Regions from separate parts of the Homo sapiens genome. Here region 2 is linked to region 1. Evidence: fine-mapped expression QTL. A gene starts in region 1. The other region holds a variant in brackets. All regions are shown on one strand. Distances are from middle to middle. Region 1 holds the start of LNCSRLR (lncRNA sorafenib resistance in renal cell carcinoma associated). Region 2 overlaps PLOD2 (procollagen-lysine,2-oxoglutarate 5-dioxygenase 2).

The links. PIP is the estimated chance that this variant, and not a neighbour inherited with it, causes the effect. A credible set is the group of variants that fine-mapping cannot tell apart.
Region 2: its variant is the best candidate, but not a certain one, in a credible set for the expression of LNCSRLR in fibroblasts (GTEx, PIP 0.55).

Annotation. Positions count from the first base shown.
Region 1 is chr3:146,067,085-146,072,484 of GRCh38, forward strand. It overlaps LNCSRLR (lncRNA sorafenib resistance in renal cell carcinoma associated), which reads right to left and starts at 2,101. Exons shown (of 2, transcript NR_146297.1): 1 at 1,735-2,101. It overlaps PLOD2 (procollagen-lysine,2-oxoglutarate 5-dioxygenase 2), which reads right to left. Exons shown (of 20, transcript NM_182943.3): 18 at 4,193-4,339; 19 at 3,958-4,083; 20 at 2,356-3,788. The coding sequence ends at 3,633.
Region 2 is chr3:146,115,518-146,120,917 of GRCh38, forward strand. The region is part of intron 3 of PLOD2 (procollagen-lysine,2-oxoglutarate 5-dioxygenase 2); the gene reads right to left. Among named protein-coding and RNA genes, the nearest start is that of PLOD2, 43 kb to the right of the region's middle. The variant T/C (reference allele first, on the strand shown) is at 2,438.

The DNA.
Region 1 (5,400 bases):
CAGTTCTGTTTGATACACTGCTTTCATGAAGTCTTGAAGACTTCAATATTCCGCAACAGTTAACCTCTAGTCTAGTCAGAGGGAGTTATTTACACAGACTCAATTATGACTAAAAATTCTACTGGGCTCTTCTGAAACTTTAAGACATCTGTTGAATAACCATTCCAAATTCCAAATGAATGACAAGTTACCAGCATGTCATGTAAAATGGGCTTTAGGGCATAAAAAGCAAATAAATCAAGACATACGTATGTCAGACAGGAAAACAGAAGTGAGTACATAAAGAGATTCTGTGACGAGGATGGACCACTCAACTCATATGTTCATTGTTTTCCACATTTCTATTCCATAGAAGGATATTTGACCTCTTAGTTAAGTTACCAATACAGATAAATTACTAGTGTTTTCAAAGATGAAGCAGAATGAAGATTAATGCACTGGATGACTACTGAAGTATCTATATTAAGGAAAATATTCATATTGATTCCTATGCGCATTAAGAATTAGAAAAAATTCTACCACGGTGAGCATTTAAAGCACCTTGGTAATGTATGTATACACATACACACACATGCGCACACACACACGGTTACTATTGACATCCATATGCTTCCATTTATTCAAATTAGTTACGTGAATGTCTCCTTTTCCTTCTAGTCTTTTTTTCTTTAAACAATCAATATACAAATATATTTCTATAATATTTCAAAAACACAAGTGTAAAACGTAAAAGGCATAAATCCTATTTACTCCTCCGTGATCTCATACCACTCTCCAGAGTTGTTCCTCTCTAGGAAATTTTCTGTAGGTTTATGCACACATATATAGTATTTTGTTTTTAACATAAATGGTATCATACTCTAAATAGTGTGACTTTATCAGGTTCATCTGTCAGAGATATCTGATTGTTGCAGATACACAATAAGCCCTTGGACTACATGTGCTTAAACTACGCGGGCTCATGTGTATGCCGGTTTTTTCTGTCTCTGCCACCCCTGAGACACCCTTCCTCTTCCCCTTCCTTCTCAGCCTACTCAGCGCGAAGACAACAAGGATGAAAACCTTTATGATGATCCACTTCCACTTAATGAATAGTAAATATATTTTATCTTTCTTTATAATTTTTTAAATAACGTTTTCTCTAGCTTATTGTAACAATACAGTGTATAATGCATATAACATATAAAATAAATGTTCATCAGCTGTTTATGTTATCAGTGAGGCTTCCAGTCAACAGTAGGTTATTAGTTGATAAGTGTTGAGGGAGTCAAAAGGTACATGTGGATTTTCGACTGCATGGGGATCAGTGCCTCTAACGCCCATATTATTCAGGGGATAATTGTTTATATATATGGGTGTGTGTGTGTATTTTTTTTAAAAAGCCTTTATTATATTGCATAAAATGAATGAATCAAACAATAGATGTACTTTCTGTATCTTCTGCTCTGTGTGTTTCAAGCTGTATTTTTCTCCATCCTTCCAATTCTACTCGTTTTCCGTTTTTCAAATTTTTTAATCTACTTATGGGAATTTTTCTAATTTTCTCTCAGTAATTATGAATCATCTTTTTAAAGCTACATTTTATATTATTTCATGGAATGTAGGATAAGAGGAAAGACAAAAAAACTGTGCTCAATAGACTACCTGGATCCCATTTCTGAAAACATGGCATGAGACTGAAATAGTTATGCTAAGTAACCACCCATGGATACCAAAATGGAAAATAACTAGTACCTGGGAGATGTCTTTGAACTGTACCACAAGAGATATTAAGCTGGCTTGCACTGGTAGGAACGAACCGATCTGCTTTTATAACCAGAGTCTGTTCCGATGAGTTGGCATCTACATCATACCAGGTGTTACATATTTTGAAAACCATTCCTGATGTACAGTAACATAATTCACAAATCATTACTAAAATGTCTCCTTATCCTAGTTGATGGATAGTAGAAATTTTCTTTGGGTATTAAGTGTCGCCAAAGAAGAGAACAGGAGTAGAACCAACTTCCTTATCTTTTTAAGTCCATCTCACAGTGACTATAATGTCTTCTTCATCAACATATCCTTGGTGCCTGGAACAGTGCCTGACCCATAATAGAGACCCAGAAAATATTAATAAACAAATAAACCTATATTGAATAACATTTGGCTTCTATTTTCTCACTTGGAAAACGAGTTAGATCAAATCCCTAGTCATCCTAAAATTGAAGATTTTATAATTTCATTTATAATTCAATAGTTTCGTATATCATTAAATCTACTAAGCAAAATGAAAAATCAAAGGCTTCATTCTTTCAGACAATTCCATCATGTATTCACGTTGGAAGATAAACACCAATAATAGAACAACAAAACTTTCTAAAATTATTTTATTTTTTATAATTTTCTAACACATGGTGTTAGAAAATGAATTTTGGCACCGTGATTAAGAATTTCTTTTCAAGTTTAACCTTTACATTAAAAACAGTAGCTACAATAAGGATATTTCAACCTTACTTAGAGAAGTGATAAAACATCAAGTCAACAAGTATTTTTGTTGGAGAATTTTTTTATAAGCGGGATAGAGGGAAGTTAACATAGACACTCAGAAGAATAAAATGGAAATTATGCCAGGAAGATAAAAAAGCAAATAACCCTCCCCCCAAAAAAAGAATAAGGAGCGAGACAAAGGGCAAAACGGAAGAAGCAAGGCTCAACAACTTTGTTTTCCTGATATAAAATTCAAGTACTTAAAAAGTTTTTTAAAAAATAATTAAATGCACTACTCATCTCAATGAAATTTTTCGTTTTCCTATTTTCTAGAACTTTCTAAAAAAGGAAACAAAGCAAAAACAACAACAAAAAAAACCTGTTTGACTTAAGGACACTTGCTGATCTTGACACTTGATAATACTTTAAGAAATGGAAAGGTTTTCCTAAATCTAATACCTGCTTAATATAATCCACTTTGGAAGATTCATCTGAAAGAAACATAGGGTTTGATTTTTAATACTAATATAAAATAATCTGCCTTCCAATCAAAACAAAAATGTTTTCAACTGTATACGCTCCTCGGTTGTGTTTTGTACCATTTTCTTGAGGAAAACGTTGTGTAATTCTTTGTGTGTTCCCTTAGTAACTACTGTAAATAAGACCTGCATAGGTGTTCAGAAAAATACTTAGTTGCATACAAATCCAGTTAGAATCTGATTTTCAAGGTTTTACAACATGGTAATTTTCATTTATATCCATTTTGTCTACATTTCCTCTATATTTTGATAAATAAAAATCTTCCCATGCTTTTTTTAAATAAGAAAATATTATTAGTCTTGTTATTTGTACCTAAATATTTTATCAATTTGAAACACAAATTCATAAATTGTCATTATTCTCAGAGGCAACAAAGCATAGAAATAAATATTTAAGTTTTTTCTTTCTTTTCTTCTTCAATCTGTGTTTTAAGGCTCAGAGCAGACATTAAGAAATATCAAACAATTTTTTATAAAAAGTTTTTCAAATGTTTGGCCCAAAGTGAAGTTGTTCTGTTGATGTTATTTAAATATTCCTCTCATCTTCTCAGCCACAACTTCAAAGACGTGTTCATGCCAGTCATTCATCCAAAATAAATTTCAATTCAATGAAAAGTAAATAACTTAGGGATCTATAAATGACACTGCAATGTATCTTGTTCCATTTTTAACAGGAAGTCCTTCATGCAAATGTGTGAGTCTCCCAGGATGCATGAAGCTCCAGCCTTTTCGTGGTGACTCAATAGAGCAATTGTACCTTAGAAATTTGCAACCACCTCCCTAAAAAAGTTAAAATGAAGAAATACATCAGATTATATTTAACCAGTGGCAAAATTCAAATTATGTCATTTGAGCAAAATTTAAAAAAGAAACTAAGGCCTAAGGCAAAGTCCTTTTCATAATGATATATTTCTTTTGAAAAATCTAAAAACACAAGAGTCATAATTACCTGAAAGTCTTCTCCCACGTTATTAAGTGCAATGTTTATGGTAAATGTAGAAGCATCATGATGAGGACGAAGAGAACGCTGTCGTTCAGGGGAGTATTTTACTACAAAATTCAGTAGTGCAAATCCCTGAAAAAGCAAAGTAAGCCAGTGGATTTGCTTATTAATAAAAACATTAAAAAGAACACCTGTGTAAAAATGGGTAAGAAATAGGCTGGAGGGGTGAGAGGATAACTACCTTCGTATAATAGCCTGCAAAGACCTTCAGTGTAACTGGTGCAATGAACTCCCGGATAAAATGAAGCCATACATTCTCCAGATCAACTTGCTTCATGTGGATATCATCAGTTGGGACATTTTCATAACCACCAGATATACGGCTATCCTAGAAACAACATTAATGACATAATAAGCTGTACTCCACGTGCAATTCCCATTTATATTATAGTATTTTTTTTCAACCACAGATCATAATAGACAATAAAAATAACAGTTGTTCCAATGTGGTATATCATCTGCTTTAACTGTAAAATTATCAAAATAACTTAGGTAACAGCTTTGTCAATGATACAATGACGAAACAAAGTAATGTAAGGTCAGTAGACTCCTTTCCTACTTCTTAAATGTATATGTGAAGTTTAGCTATAAAGTAAATAAAATTGACTTCCTAAGCCCTCACATCCTTTCTTAAAAATGAGTCTTTTTTTACAGTGACCCTTTAGGCAGTCTCAGCTGCTTGATGAGCATACACTTAGCATATCTGCTGTCTGTATTACCAAACACTAAAAACAAGCTTTCCCCGCCCTTCCTCACTTCTATTTGTAACACTCAAAAGTTTTTGAATGATTGCTTTTCATTATTTCATCACCCACTAACTTAAGTTCTTCCTTATACTTTAAGCTTCCCTCTCCCTTATCAGCTCATTACCTGGGGGACATAACCGTGCAGAGGCAGTAATATTCCAGAGTATTCTGCTAAAATGGCATGTCTGTTCTCAGAGGGAAAGAAACACATCTAACCACTGGCAGTAGTATTTCCTGCCAAGTCTTTGACACTGAATGCAAATGCAAAACTGAATTACACCTAAGGCACTCAGATCCCTCCTTCCTATCTTTACACACAAAAACAGTTTTCAGAGCCAGATAACATTTGCCTTAGAATTTTCACCACAGCTCACTGTGAAAACGCAAGGAATAAAAAGTGGCCTTGGAAAAGAGTGACATCACTCTGTAAAGACATGTGTTACCTAACAAACTCTGGCCTGAGGACATCGACCCTTAGGGAACATCCAGTGTAATTACATGCATAAATGAGAAACCCGCCCAAACTAATGAAATTACTTAAGTGTTAAAAAAATTGGTTGGTGGGAGAAGTAGACTGAAATCAGAGCCTTGGCTAGCCAATTTATCTAAGTCTAGAACTCAGAGACATATGAGAAAAAGTATA
Region 2 (5,400 bases), 48 kb after region 1:
CATGGAATCTTTTCCTTAATCCTATTGATTCCATCTACTTAATTTATTTTGCATTCAAATCCTCTCCACTCCCACTAGAAGGCACAAGGCTAGATTAATTTTAAAACCCTAGAGACCTCTACATTACCCATCTCTTCCTCACTCATAAATAAGACTGTCTGACAAACTATTTTAAAAATGATTCTGTGCCAGTTCCCAGACTGTATCAATGGTTCTCAACTATGGCCTAAAGCGGGAGTCAGTAAATATTTACTCTCTGGCCTTTTACAGAAAATATTTTAGGTCCTGATGACCATATTGTCTGTCACAGTGACTGAACTCTGTCACTGTGTTGCAAAAGCCACCACAGACAATATGTAAACAAATGAGCACAGCTGCATTTCAATAAAACTTTTTACAAAAACAGGCAGTGGTACAAGCCACAGAATCCATCATCTTGAGTCTCAACAAGAAGCAAAAGCTCCCATATAGCCAAAAAAGAAAGCAACAGAAGTGTTCCCTAACCTTGTCATTTAGCCCCAATCCTTTATCATTATTGGCATAAACTTCAGCAAAAATTATAATCATCCAAACTATTAGCAGCACAGAAGTAGCTTCACACCTGATAATTCTTTCATCATATCTTCACCTGAAGCATATGTCTATATTTCCAGAGATAATTAACATCACAAACCAATACTATGGATCCACTCCTAACCACCCACCCTCAAAACACACAGACACAGACACACAGACACAGACACACAGACACACACACGCACACACACAGTTAAAAACACCCACGTACCCAGTTGACTTTGCACAACAGATTATGATAAAATCACAATAAAATGATTAAAATTATTTTATAAATTTTGGAGGGAGGGAAAGGGAGTTAGTTGGCATAAAACAAATACAATTTTAACAGATAAATATTGAACCATCCTGGCATTCCTGGGATAAATCCCACTTGATCATGGGGGATATTTTTGTTGTGCTGTTGGAAAGAAAATAAGTATATCAATGGGATACCTATACTTCCATGTTTACTGCAACACTACTTATAATAGTAAATATATGGAACAAATCTAAGTATGTATCAACAGATGAATGGATAAAGGAAATACGGAGTACACACATAATGGAATATTATTCACCCATAAAAAAGAAGGAAATCCTGTTATTTGCAACAATAAAATGGTTACAACTGGAGGTTACTAGGTTAATGATATAAGCCATGCACAAAAAGACAGTATCAGATGGTCTCACTCATATATGGATATCTTCAGTTTTCCTTTTGTTCTGAGAATAACCTAAAACCTTGCCAAATATCTAAATTTTTTTATCTAAATTAAATATAATAAATCTTACCCTACAGATTATAAAGAGCCAGTTTCTAATTTTAAACGTTCATCCAAAAGTAAGTTTAGAATACATATTCCATGGAAGGAATGCGACAAAATTGTTTCTAAATTAATTCAGGCTTTTTAGCATGTCTAAATGGAATACGGGATAATTATGGGGTATTGGAAACATTCTAAAATTGCATAATGGGGATGACTGCACGACTCTGTAAATTTAATTAAATTCATTGAATTTTACACTTACAAATGTTTATGGCATGTTATATAAATTATGCCCTAACAAAGCTGTGTTTCTTAAAAGGCTCATCTAAACCACTAAGTATATACATCTGTGTATATTTTCATATGATAGTGACCTATGCTTCCATAAAACAGTTGAGTTGTCCTTAAAAATACCACATAAAAAATAAGAATGTTTTGCTTTATTAAAATGAACATATCCTGAATTCTGGACCTTTACCAGAGCTAACCTTAATTAAGAGTTTAGGAATTGTGTTACAGAATGGGCATCATATTTCAAACCATTTACAAACAGTTTAATTCATTCTCCCAGGCCCTAGATTACAATTTTCAACTAGATTCATTACTCTGTATAAACTTTTTAAAAAGGGTGTTGTTTTTAAAAAATAAGAAGGGTAAAAAAAATTTCTTATGTGGCTTCAATTGCTCATCCCTCTTTAACCTCCTGGTTACTTTCTCATGACCCCTAGGTTTTTTCCACAGGATAGTCATGGTAGGTAATGATGCAGAAAATGTTAATGACTCTTCTTAGACAACAACTTGGCTGAGTGGGCACCCATGTTTTCAGTTAGCTGGCTGTTCTCACAGGAGATGTCAGAAATTTTATCTGTTTGTTTCCATTATATATCCCAAACACTAACAGTGCCTGGAAGACACTGTGTCTTCCATTAAAATTTTATTATCTTTTCTGTCAAGCTGGGTCCTAAAGTATCATCTAAATCAACAAACTCAACCTCAAGCAGGCTTTAGGTATATCACAGTGTCCTTCTTCTCATGAGAAAAAAATAGGTCCCTCACTATACCAGTTGTCCACAAGGACAAATATTAGATAGGGGGCCGGAGGTGGGGGATGG[T/C]GATGCGAGAGTGATGGTAGAGAAAAGTTCTTCCTAAAACCCAAAAGGAAGCTTGAGGATGTAAAATCATTTCTGACTCACATGTAGTAACTCTTACAAGGAGAATCTGCCTCAGAGCCAAAGTGAAAATGTACATGTGGCAAGTTTAAGCTGACTAATATGGTTGTTTGAAATCCATGGTAATTTTAAACCAAAACATACCCAGTATTTATTCTACAGAGCTATTTTAATGAACTTGGTATTCTTTTTCTAAGTGTAAAAAAAATAACAAATGCTGTAGAAAAATTCCCAGTACACTATGGCTAACACTTGCCTTACCATACTTCATCTTGCAAAATAGGTAACCACAAGCAGAACTTAATATTTTGTGTAAAATATAACAGGAAAATTTTACAGATGCAAGTGTTATGTATCTTTTGAAAATTTTTAAGTGTGTACGGCACTGGGACTTCATTATATTAACATCTATTTTCATTTCATAATTTATAACTTTCTTATTTATACTAATGCATAAAAATATTACTCTTATTTTCATCTGCAAATAATTTGTGTCTTTATATTTTCAAATTGAGAAAAAATATGTAAAAAGACCTTCCTAAGTTAGAGGGGAAAATTCATGGGGACTTAAAATGAGCAATCAATAACAAAAACAAATAAGACACAGAAAATAAAATAAAGGAAGTAGTAACTAATAACTCATGACAATTTGATGTTATTATAAAATTATAAGAAGATGGCAAAAAAGAGTGGATATTTTAATTAGGAGAGTGAAATATTACACAAAATACATTTACATTAAAAAGGTTCTTCTTTCTTAGTAACACAGGCTTTCTAATGTCTCACTTGTATTTATAACTTTGCGTGGTCTTTTTTCTTCTGTTTAACCAGAATCCATTAAGTTACCCGTCTCAATAGTAAAGCTCACTATGATCTTTATTCTTAACTCAAGACTAAAGTATGAATTTCACAAAAACGTTAGCTCTTGCCATGTTGTCTCATTAGTGTTTATGGTAATTCATCATCTTTAATTACATCATCTCAGACCATAGTTGATATAATTTGAATCTACGTCCCCACCCACATCTCATGTTGAAACGTAACCCTCAGTGCTGGAGGTGGGGTTGGGTGGGAGGTGATTGGATCATGAGGGCAGTTTCTAATGGTTTAGCACCATCACCCTAGTGATGTTCTCATTATAGAGTTCTCATGAGATCTGATTGTTTAAAAGCATGTAGCACATCCCCTCACTTCCTCCTGCTCCAATCATGTGAGACCTTCATTCCTCCTTTGCCTTCTGCCATGATCCTAAGTTTCCTGAGGCCTCTCCAGAAGCCAAGCAGCTGGCCAGCATCATGTTTCCTGTACAGCCTGTGAAATTGTGAGCCAACTAAATCTCTTTTCTTTATAAATTATGCAGTCTCAGGAATTTGTAGCAGCACAAGAACTGATTAATACAATAGTTTTATAACTAGTAATATCTACTTTTGCCTCTTTTTTTTTATTATACTTTAAGTTTTAGGGTACATGTGCACAACGTGCAGGTTAGTTACATATGTATACATGTGCCATGTTGGTGTGCTGCACCCAGTAACTTGTCATTTAACATTAGGTATATCTCCTAATGCTATCCCTCCCCCATTCCCCCACTCCACAACAGGCCCCCGTGTGTGATGTTCCCCTTCCTGTGTCCATGTGATCTCATTGTTCAATTCCCACCTATGAGTGAGAATATGCGGTGTTTGGTTTTTTGTCCTTGCGATAGTTTGCTGAGAATGATGGTTTCCAGCTTCATCCATGTCCCTACAAAGGACATGAACTCATCATTTTTTATGGCTGCATAGTATTCCATGGTGTGTATGTGCCACATTTTCTTAATCCAGTCTATCATTGTTGGACATCTGGGTTGGTTCCAAGTCTTTGCTATCGTGAATAGTGCCGCGATAAACATACCTGTGCATGTGTCTTTATAGCAGCATGATTTATAATCCTTTGGGTATATACCCAGTAATGGGATGGCTGGGTCAAATGGTATTTCTAGTTCTAGATCCCTGAGGAATCACCACACTGACTTCCACAATGGTTGAACTAGTTTACAGTCCCACCAACAGTGTAAAAGTGTTCCTATTTCTCCACATCCTCTCCAGCACCTGTTGTTTCCTGATTTTTTAATGATCGCCATTCTAACTCGTGTGAGATGGTATCTCATTGTGGTTTTGATTTGCATTTCTCTGATGGCCAGTGATGATGAGCATTTTTTCATGTGTATTTTGGCTGCATAAATGTCTTCTTTTGAGAAGTGTCTGTTCACATCCTTCACACACTTTTTGATGGCCCTATTTGTTTTTTTCTTGTAAATTTGTTTGAGTTCATTGTAGATTCTGGATATTAGCCCTTTGTCAGATGAGTAGATTGCAAAAATTTTCTCCCTTTCTGTATGGTGCTGGGAAAACTGGCTAGCCATATGTAGAAAGCTGAAACTTGATCCCTTCCTTACACCTTACACAAAAATTAATTCAAGATGGATTAAAGACTTAAATGTTAGACCTGAAACCATAAAAGCCCTAGAAGAAAACCTAGGCAATACCATTCAGGACATAGGCATGGGCAAGGACTTCATGTCTAAAACACCAAAAGTAATGGCAACAAAAGCCAAAATTGACAAATGGGATCTAATTAAGCTAAAGAGCTTCTGCACAGCAAAAGAAACTACCATCAGAGCGAACGGGCAACCTACAGAATAGTAATATCTACTTTTTAAAACAATAATTCCTTGTCAATAATTTTTTTTTGAAATGGAGTCTTGCTCTGTTGCCAGGATGGAGTAGAGTGGCGCAATCTCGGCTCACTGCAACCTTGCTCCTGGGTTCAAGCAATTCTCTGCCTCAGCCTCCCAAGTAGCTGTGATTACAGGCACCTGCCACCACGCCCGGCTAATTTTTTGTATTTTTAGTAGAGACAGGGTT